2 separate regions of the Homo sapiens genome follow, and region 2 is linked to region 1. A link means that fine-mapping ties the variant in region 1 to the expression of a gene that starts in the linked region. Tissue or cell type: whole blood. Region 1 holds a variant in brackets; the other region holds the start of a gene. All regions are shown on one strand. Distances are from middle to middle.

Region 1 (5,225 bases):
TAAAGCTAGGCTGCCTCTCATGTTTTCATCTTTTTCACACATGCCCGTTTCCCTTGCCACTCCTCTGCTATATTATGGCACAGCAAGAGGCTCTCACCAGAAGCTGAGCAGATGCTGGTGCCATGCTTCTTGGACTTTCCAGTCACCAGAATCGTGAGCCAAATAAATCTCTTTTCTTTATAAATTACCTAGTCTCAGGTATTCTGTTATGGCAACACTAAATGGACTATGAGAGTAGGTGTAAGTTTAACTTCATAAGAATCTGCCAGACAATTCTCCCAGGTGGTCACACCATTTGACACTCCCAGGAGCACTCCATAAGAGTTCTGTTGCCGTCCATTCTCACCATCATTTGATGTTCTCAGCCTTTCTTGTTTTAGCTATTCTAGTGGGTGTGAAACACTATTGTGGTTTTACAGTTTATATTTCTTTTGAAAATTACTGTATAATAATCAGGTGGACTGTGGTGAGATACCTCATGTCCCAGCTAAAACAGAAGCCCAGTTTATTGATTCTGGGGGCAAGACAGACTGCCCGTTATGAGGAGGCTCTCTGTAATATCACACTTCATTCCACTTTCTATTTTGCATTTGCACCTCATTCATTAGTCATTTTACACATTTCTTTCCACACTTCTTTTGGTTGGATCTCAAAATAACCTGAGGAACCTGAGGGGTAGACACAGTTAATTTCCCTGCTGCCTACAGAATGTTTTCATATGTGGCTTCAGCAGGCAAAACAGGGTGGAAATGTGCAGCCCTTATCTCTCACAGATGGGTGTTTTAAATGTAAAATTACCTATTAACATTCATAAATCTATGGAAAGACAAGACAGATCTTTACTCAGTGAGGTCTGTGTGCTTTGACAAGTTGCCTTATCTCACCCTCACAACATGGGGGGAAGGAGGAATGACTATTGTTATTTTACAGCTGAGAAGGTTGCAAATTAACCGCTCAATGTTCCCTAATAAAGGGGCAGATCTGTGATCTGGACACAGTTTCCTGCCTTGAAAGAATCCCATAGTTTTTCTACAACATTGCAGATGCCTTCATATAAAAAACATTTGAGGCTGGGTGTGGTGGCTCACGCCTGTAATCCTGGCACTTTGGGAGGCTGAGGTGGGCAGATCACCTGAGGTCGATTGTTTGAGACCAGTCTGACCAACATGGAGAAACCCTGTCTCTACTGAAAATACAAAATTAGCTGGGCATGGTGGGCTTGTAATCCCAGCTACTTGAGAAGCTGAGACAGGAGAATCGCTTGAACCCAGGAGGCGGAGGTTGCGGTGAGCCAAGATCGTGCCATTGCACTCCAGCCTGGGCAACAAGAGCAAAACTCTGTCTCAAAAAACAAACAAACAAAACATTTGAGCCTGATGTTTAACCCCCACCTGCCACCAAAAGAAAACCCTTCACTATTTAATAGTTATTGACACTGTTGTAAAAGCCACACTGGGGACCTTTGAAGGGATTGGGTTACTGACTGATGTTTCATAAAGGCCCCTAATCATTTTTGTGGTATCTATAGATAGACAATTTTTTTTGGAAATGGACTCAATGGGAGTAAGTCAAAGGCCATAATACCTATCAGCTCAGCAGGACAAATTTAAGACTCATGGAACACAAGTTACCCAACAAAAACAAAAAACAAGAAGCAAAAACAAATCCAATAATTATTTAAGGTTCCAGGTGGCTTCTGGAGGTTGTAAAAGCCAAAAAAGGAGCAATGTATCTGCTTCCACAACCAGCATTCACCCAGAGTGGTTAACAAAGCGTCCTGTGTAACACACTGGAAATGCACATCTGCTTGTCGTATGTGACTCATGATCACCCAGAAGCCCATGGGTTTTGAAGATAATAGTTTGTTTGGTATTTTCAGGAAAGCAAACAGATTTTCCAAAAGCTAGAAGAGGATGCATAAAGCAGTAGGCTAGTAGGCTAGAAGGCTCTCCCTAAAGCCTTATAGATGGGTAGATATATAGATGGGTAGAATATAATATAGATGGGTAGAATACTGTACCATTAACTCACATAATCATTATCAGCAGGGCCACTTGAACCTTTAGAAATTATACAAAGAGAGAAACAGGCTGCCTGGTGAAAGTGGTAATAACATCAGGCATGACATGGTAATCTTGTGATATCAAAAAAGAAAGGAGAGGGTGCATTGTGGAGCACTTAAAAACAAGATTTGTGTGGTAGAGGTGAACATGAACTGAGCTCTCAGACACCCGTGGTTTGCACACTGTGGGCAGCTGAAGC[T/C]ATCACTGCTTACAGATGTGGTCACGGATGGCCACATCAGTTATTCCTCAGTTCCTGGGTAATTGTACATGACTCAAAACACAGGATGTTTGTGGTCAAGCCATGGAAAAATACTCCCTACAGGAGTTCTCTGGGTCTAGTTTGAACCTACCTGATGTTTCTCAGCAAAGTAGAGAGGACTGATGGTAGATATTTTTATCTTGTTTTTTGGACAATTAGGTTCAAGGTAACACCTGTCTGTTTTTTTGTAGCCTGGGCCCACTGTGCTCAGGTCCTGCTGTAGATAATGAGGGGTTTGGGCTGGCTGGTGCCTCTCACAGCTTTCTCCACCCCTGCTGAGGCTCTGGCTTTCTATGGTTGCACTTTGGTTTGAGAAGGTCTCCAGGCTCTGCCTTTGCTCTTATTTCTGATGCCCTTCTCCTTGTCTGCCCCACCACCAAGCAGCTGCTCTCATGGGTGCCCCACTTCACTGTATCTGCCTTGCCCCTTCAGATGGGCTGTGGGTTCTTATGGTGCAACTGGCTCTTGAGCCACTTTGGAAAAGATGCTGACTCCTGAGATTGGTGCAACACGGATTTATGGAGGGCCTGGAATGTGTCGGAAGCTGTGGTGGGAATAGAAAGAGCAATAAGACAAGATTCCTGACTGGGAGGAGTTTAGTAAGATGCAGACGTGGAGACAGATAAATCCATGTTGTGTGAAGAATGCAAACCACCCACAAGTGCACTCCTGGGGTAGTGGCTTTGGTCTGGGTAGTTGTTCCCCTGCTTCTGGGGACAAAGGAAGGTCAAGTTAGGGCAAAGCCTGGGTTGGACTCAGAGAGGTGCAGCAGTGAAGGGGTCGAGGGGGAAACTAGCCCCAGGAGATTTTCCTCTAGCACTCACAGGAGAAGCAAGGGCAGAGGCTCTGACCCAAAACTCAGTCACCTTGAGGCCCCTCTCTCAGCTTCTTTCTCACCTCCAAGGCTAAGAAAGCAGGAGCAGCACATAGAGCTCTTCCAGTGATCATGAGCGGCACACACCATTGGCACAGATGGGGCCTCCTGCACAGCCTGAGAAGGGCCAGACTCTGCCCAGAGTCTCCCCTTAGTATTCCTACCAGCTGCGGTCCACTCTCCTGCCTCCAACCTCACCACATGCCATTGGAATTCCTTCCATGAGTGACTTGCTGCATCCTACCAATCATTTCTGGAGCCACAGTCTAATCTCTTTGTTTGAACAAGTGTTGTGTCTTTCTTTCCTTTCTTTCTTTTTTTTTTTGAGATGGAGTCTTGCTGTGTTGCCCAGGCTGGAGTGCAGTGGCACAATATTGGCTCACCACAACCTCCACCTCCCGGGTTCAAGCGATTCTCCTGCCTCAGCCTCCTGAGTAGCTGGGACTACAGGTGCCTGCCACCACGCCCGGCTAATTTTTTGTATTTTTAGTAGAGATGGGGTTTCACCATATTGGCCAGGCTGGTCTCAAACTCCTGACCTTATAATCTTCCCACCTCGGCCTCTGAAAGTGCTGGGATTACAGTCATGAGCCACCGCGCCCGGCCCGTGTTGTGTCTTTTCTAACCCTGCATGCCTGCCTTGACCTAGAACCCTGCAGGAAACATTTAAAGAGCGCTCACTACCTGCCAGGCACTGTGCTACCTCACACTGTCCTCACAACACCCCGATGAGGACAGTCTTACCACTTCCACTTTACAGATGAGCAACTGGGTCACAAAGAGGTGAAGTGACTTGCCCATGGTCAAAGTAAGTGGGGGAACCAGATTCAAATCCATGCAGGCCAACTCCAGGTCATTATCCTTAATGGGGCTATGCTGCCAGCAATACAAGCTGCCTACAAACACTTAGCAAATGAGAGAGAATAAAGAATGAGGGCTGGGAGTGGTGGCTCACACCTGTAATCCCAGCACTTTGGGTGGCCGAGGCGGGTGGATCACTTGAGGCCAGGAGTTCAAGACCAGGCTGGCCAACATAGTGAAACCCAATCTCTACTAAAAATACAAAAAATTAGTTGGGTGTGGTGGCAGGCGCCTGTAATCCCAGCTACTCAAGAAGCTGAGGCAGGAGAATCGCTTGAACCTGGGAGGTGGAGGTTACAGTGAGCTGAGAGCCGAGATCACGCCACTGCACTCCAGCCTGGGTGACAGAGCAAGACTCTGCCTAAAAAAAAAAGAAAAAAAAAGAATGGGTCAGACAAACAGGTAGGGGCACAGGACTGGCTTCCTTGGGCTAGCCCTTGAAATTTAGGGTCCACATAGAGGTTCAGAGGATCAAGATGAAGCTGCCCAGAGATCAGAGTTCTCAGGCAGTCCAGCCCAACCTAAATTTATCCCCAAAGATATTTCTGCCGCCAAGTCCACTCACTCCGCTAGAAACAGTGCAAAGTTAGAGGGCTTGACACTGCTAAACACCTCTCAACGGCAGTTATTGCCCTTTAATCTCAGCACTAAATCCATGTCCTTCTTGATGCTGTTTATAGCACGTTTAACAATTTGATTAGTTTTAGAAATCAACCCAGCTGATGTTACAGTTAGCAGAATTAATCAGAGCTTCTAAGCAGCATTCCACCATGACTGAGGTGATAAACAAATCCCCCTGTCTTCTAAACCCCAAGCCCACTCCATTTCTAAATCCTTTTGTGGCTGTTTTCAACATTCTGATTGTACAGTTGTGACAGTGGAATCATAAAAATGTCTCAATGGATACACACACACACACACTATATATATATGTGCATGTATACATATATATATGCATGTATACATATATATATGCATGTATACATATATATGCATGTATATATATATATGCATGTATACATATATATGCATGTATATATATATATGCATGTATACATATATATGCATGTATATATATATATGCATGTATACATATATATGCATGTATATATATATATGCATGTATACATATATATATATATGCATGTATACATATATATATATATGC
Region 2 (5,225 bases), 39 kb after region 1:
TCTCAAAAATTTAAAAAAAGAGTGTGCAGAACAACACAGCTGAAGAACACATTCTTAGATACATCAAAATGGGATAATCCAGTTGATACCATTTTATAACCTTGGCAACATGAGGATAATGGTTCATCCTTTCATGTCATTTTCTAGTCTGTGCTATGTAATTTCAAGTGCCTTTTCACTGAATAGACCTATTAAAATTGATACAAGCAGCTGGCTATTGTTGGACGTGTTCTATTTTTAATAAGAAAAACTGGAAGCAACTTAAATGTCCAACAACTGGGGACTGGTTAAAGCCATACAATGGGATGATCCCATTTTTGGTTTGTGCACATGAGCGTGCATACATACACATTAAGAAGACTGCATCAAAGTGAATAAGGCAGTTTGCTTATAGATAATTTTTTTCCATTTTGGTTATATTTATTGCCACTTTTTCTACAATAACTATATGCTACTTAAAACATCTTAATTATTAACTTCCTTCCCCCATATTGATAGCCAGGGAGAACACCCAGAAGAGTGTGTGTGTGCACATGCAAGGCGTGCAACCATCATAGATGAAATGGCAGCATCTGAGGTGAGCCCTAGGGCTAACAGGTCTGACTCCAAGTCATGCAAATCTGTGGGGATGTGGGGGAGGAGATGGGGGAGACTCATCAGCGCTACCAGTTACACATTCCAGACAACAGCCAGTAGCTCCTCATTTGAATCGGAAACAGAATGAACACCCACACTCACCCAGGGAGTGTGAATATATCATTTGATCTGTCTGCTCACATTTTTGGCAAGAGACAATGGTGGCAAGATTGGGGTCACTGACCCAGACTCTGGTATCTGAGTGGTTCTTAGAAAGCAACCAAATGGAGGTTTTCAAAAGGCTATGATCCCAATGTAACCAGTGTTTCACTCTTGGAAATGGGGGAGTTGGTGGGGATACCAAAGTCACACAAACACACGACACCAAGACACAAACTTTCCTTTACTTTTCATCTCTGCAGTGACACCAAATTCATTTTTACTCTGCTGAGTCTTTCTTTGTTAAGAGACTTCATGGATTTATAAAACAAATCCACTGTGCCAGGGCTCTGGCTTTCTGTATCCTTTCAGGACAGTCTCCAGGAATTTCTCAAAGGCCTTTGCCACTTAGATCCTCAAGACTACAGGCAACTACTCCAACCACAAAAGCTCTCAGTTCAGCCTGATGTACCCTCAAAGGGCCAGTTCCTGAGACCATAGGGAGGAACTTAAGAAAGCGAAAGGGAAAGTTCCTAGGTTTCTACGTATTTATGTATTGAACCATGAGACAGGGCTCAGCCAGTCAAGGACTTCCTGGAAGGGACTCCATTGGAGTTACTGGACCAAAATGGCAGCCTTCCCAGATCACAGGGAGAAATGAGACCAGGAACAGAGGCTCTCATTATTAGCAATGCCTTGATTAACACCCTGTTCTGACTGGAAGAGTTCCCCACTGTTGTCACAGAAAGCCAAAAACATCTCAGATAATTCCCAGAGTTTCAATACTGTTCCAAGACTGGTAGGCACGCATTTTTCTCAGCACACATATACACATATTTTCACTTCCTTTTTATTCTTAAACTAATTCTTTTTCTTCAAAGGGAATCTTGGAAATTCAGTCCTAAGAAATTATAGTAAATATTCATCAGCCAGGCACAGTGGCTCACATCTGTAATCCCAGCACTTTGGGAGGCCCAGGTGGGAGGATCACTTGAGCTCAGGAGCTCGAGACCAGCCTGGGCAACACAGTGAAACCCTGTCTCTACTTTAATATATATAATTTATATATATATTTATAAATCCATGCCATGGTTTAAATGAAGTTTTAAATTTTCTATCTACTATGCAGCAATATGTCACCTGATGTTGGAGAATGAACCAGGAAGTATTCCTGGAGCTTATATTGATATTTTAGAAGCTCCTGTCTTGTATTTGTAAAGACGGCAGTCACCGGGACGCCCAAATTCAACCTCACTTGCGTCCTTTTATTCCTTTATCTAATTTACACCTGCCAAACACAAATCCACCCTAGATGCAGCAAGGGGAATCAAACCCACATGGCTTCCTGGAGAGCTCTATTTAAAAAACACAAAACCTGTACTAATCTCGCGAAACCTGTACTAGCCTCACATCAAGTTCTTACATGAAGAAACCAGGTTATTTACTACGTTCTAATACATCCAGGGCCCACAGGGCATTTCCTGGCTGGCACAGGTCACTGGGACGTGTTGGTCCCTTCCCCCAACCGAAACAACTCGAAATTCACACATATCCCCGGAACAACAGCCTCCTGCCCTCAAAGTCCACTGCCAAAAAGTGCGAGGGGCGCGGGAATGTCCAGTCTCTGCGGTGGCGCAGATGCCTGGCGGCTTTCTCTGGGACCCCCTAAAAGAAATCCGGGCGCTTTCATTTTTGCACCAACGCTCTTCAACTTTAGGAGAGGGGGAATGCAGCGTGCGGACGGGAAAAAGGGGATCTAGTGGGAAATGCGGACGTGAAAGCACTTTTTTTGCACCTTCTCTCTGGACCAGGCGAGGAGGTAGAGGGCGAGCCTGGAGAGGAAAGATCTCTTCCCACACCCTGCCTGGGTGCTTTCAAGAATCCCGGCAAAGACCCTGGGGCGCACGGCGCGCCACCTTGGACATGTCGCCTGGGATCGGCTACCGGGAGCTCCTTTTCCCGCCTTCTCGGCCAGCACCGGGCTCATCCTCCCGGACCGGGAGGCTCCCCGATCGGGGACACTCTCACGTGCCGAGGGCAAGGTTGACTCCAGGAGGGCAAGGCCCACGCGCCCGACGCGGCGCGCGCAGGAACCGAACAGTCCGGGGGTCCCGGAGCCACCCGCGCATTTTGACTACGCCGTCCCCGCCCTCTCTCCGCACCCTCCGCACCCTCCGCACCCTGCGTCCCTCGGCCGCATCTCCGCCGGGCGTCCGCTGGCTGGCTAGCTCACCACTCCACGCCATCCGCCTCCAAAGCCCGGCACTCACCTGCCCCGCGCGGCAGGCGCGCCGCACCCAGCAGCAGAACCCCTAGCAGTGCGATAGAGACCCCGCAGTTCAGGCCGGCCATGACTCCGGGACGCCTCGGCCTCGGTGGGGAAAACGACGGTGGGGAGCGGCGGCCCCAGGCGCCCAAGCCCGGCGCAGCTGCGCTCCGCCCTGGCTCACTCACCTGCGCGCGGGCGGACCGGCCCGAGCCCCGCCCTGCGCAGCAGGATCGCGAGCTGACCCGGTGCGTCCCTCCTCTCTCTCCTCCTCCTCTTCCTGCCTCAGCGACCGCCTCTCCCTCCCAGGGTGCAGGGCTCCCGGCACCGGGTTGCTGGGTCCCTACTACTCCCCATTGCGGCGTTGGAGCGGACTTGTCCCCACCTTTCCGGGCTTAGTCTTCCTTCCCAAGTCTGAGAATGATGAGGTCTTTTTCTCCAGAGTCGCGAAGGTCGCCCATAGAGGAAGCCAGTCTACCTTCCCTTTTCTGTCGAGGAGACAAAGGCCATTATGCGCCTCGTTTTGGAGAAGAATCCTATTTGTGGGCCACCCAAGCCCTGGATCCTCTGCTACTTGACTTGGGCCAGAGGTCTGTTGGACTTTAAAGCCGGTGGTGGTACAGCTAGTATTTGCAGGACGGTGAGCCTGCAGCCTACTCCACACACATCACCTGCAGTATTTCCAGACACGCAACGTGTCCAAGGTCCCCAGGGTAGCTAGTAAATTAGAGGCAGATGCACCACTTCGTTGAATTGTGAGTAGAGTAGTATGCATCCCTTCACTGAGCTGTGGATGGAGTAGTATGTGCCCTTCTCGAGTTGTATTATAAATGGAGTAGTGTGTGCAGTGTGAGCGTGAAGCATTCAGGTCAAACGTTGGGCTGGAAAATGAATGAAAAATGAATGGCGCTGGACTCCTTTTCCAAATCCTCCCAGCCGCAGGTGTGCCACCTGCCTGTCTTCAGAGGCCCTGTGGGTTCTCCTTCCACCCTGCCGGCCATACACCAAGTCCAGGCCACAGGCAGAGATTGCGGATGGTTCAGGAGTTCTTAGCTAGCAGACCTGGGTTCTGCCAGAATGACTCCCTGGGACTACTTGTGTTCATGGATAGCCAGAAGCTGGGCCAGAGTCACCCGGAGCAACCTGGGAGGCTTGGGACAGGAACCAAAGCATGTGCGACAGCATCAGTTTACAGTCCAGTCCCAACTTCTGCTTAATTCTTGCGGGCACTGAGCCTCTCCAGGCTGCCCCAATCCTCCTTGTGGACAGGGGTGGGAAATCATCTCCTAGGAGCGTCACCCCTTCCTTCTCGATGTCCTTAATCATGAGAATAGAGCTAGCTCTGCCCTCTGGGAGCCCACAGTCCATCGAGGGAGGCAGAACTTGGAACATGACCCTGCCCACACCCCCACCTCTGGGAGGGCCTGTATCGTGAGCTAAACGGGACCTTAGATGTAATCTTCTAGTCCACTTCTGTCCTTGTGCAGAAAAATGGGAAAACTGAGAACTAGAGGGAAGGGAGAGGATGAGAAACGAAGAGAGGCTCTTGGTTCTCCCCACTGAATCGAGGACAAATTCATCAAGAGAAAGAAATCTTGACAAAAATCTAAACAATCTTTAAAAATATTTATGCTGACCAGGAGGGTGAAAGGAGATTTGTCTTTTCTCCTGATTCTAAGCAGGCATATATATCCCAGCATCTTTTCCTAACATCCATGACACCATTGTTTCCCACATACAGTAATACCCACAACAGTACTAGAATGGCAGTGTATTGAATGCAAAATATCAGAAATATTGCTTGACAAGTTAAGCCTAAGGAACAAGTTATTTCCTTACTATTTCGTCTCTCCAAAGTTTGCTTAACTGTCTTTCTTGGGATAGTTGACACCAGCTTTCTGAAAATGGAATGAGAGTCACTAATTCCCAAATATGAAGCATTGGTGGTGGTTCCAGAAAGTAGCAGCAACGAGAAAGAAGAAAATAGGGAGGCACTTCAGCATCCTTTGCGTGACAACCCAACTACATAGTTGAAGTAAAGATGTCCTGACATACTGTCCTGGTCCTCCAAGTGGAGTGTGAACAAAGCATTGCCAAGAATGGACATGTTTTGTCTTTACAAACATGGCTGAATGGAAGGAGTAAATTTTAAAAGGTTATTTCTGAACTGGAAAGCAACGTAGGTAACTATAATCTAGTGCTAGAGAGAAATGAGAGATTGAAA

Evidence for each region. PIP is the estimated chance that this variant, and not a neighbour inherited with it, causes the effect.
Region 2: CDCP1 starts here. The variant in region 1 is fine-mapped to the expression of CDCP1 in whole blood (TOPMed, PIP above 0.99). The same link has a PIP of 0.9 or more in T cells and blood mononuclear cells.

The regions. Positions count from the first base shown.
Region 1 is chr3:45,103,704-45,108,928 of GRCh38, forward strand. The region is part of intron 4 of CDCP1 (CUB domain containing protein 1); the gene reads right to left. Among named protein-coding and RNA genes, the nearest start is that of CDCP1, 40 kb to the right of the region's middle. The variant T/C (reference allele first, on the strand shown) is at 2,263.
Region 2 is chr3:45,143,201-45,148,425 of GRCh38, forward strand. It overlaps CDCP1 (CUB domain containing protein 1), which reads right to left and starts at 3,178. Exons shown (of 9, transcript NM_022842.5): 1 at 3,006-3,178. The coding sequence starts at 3,087.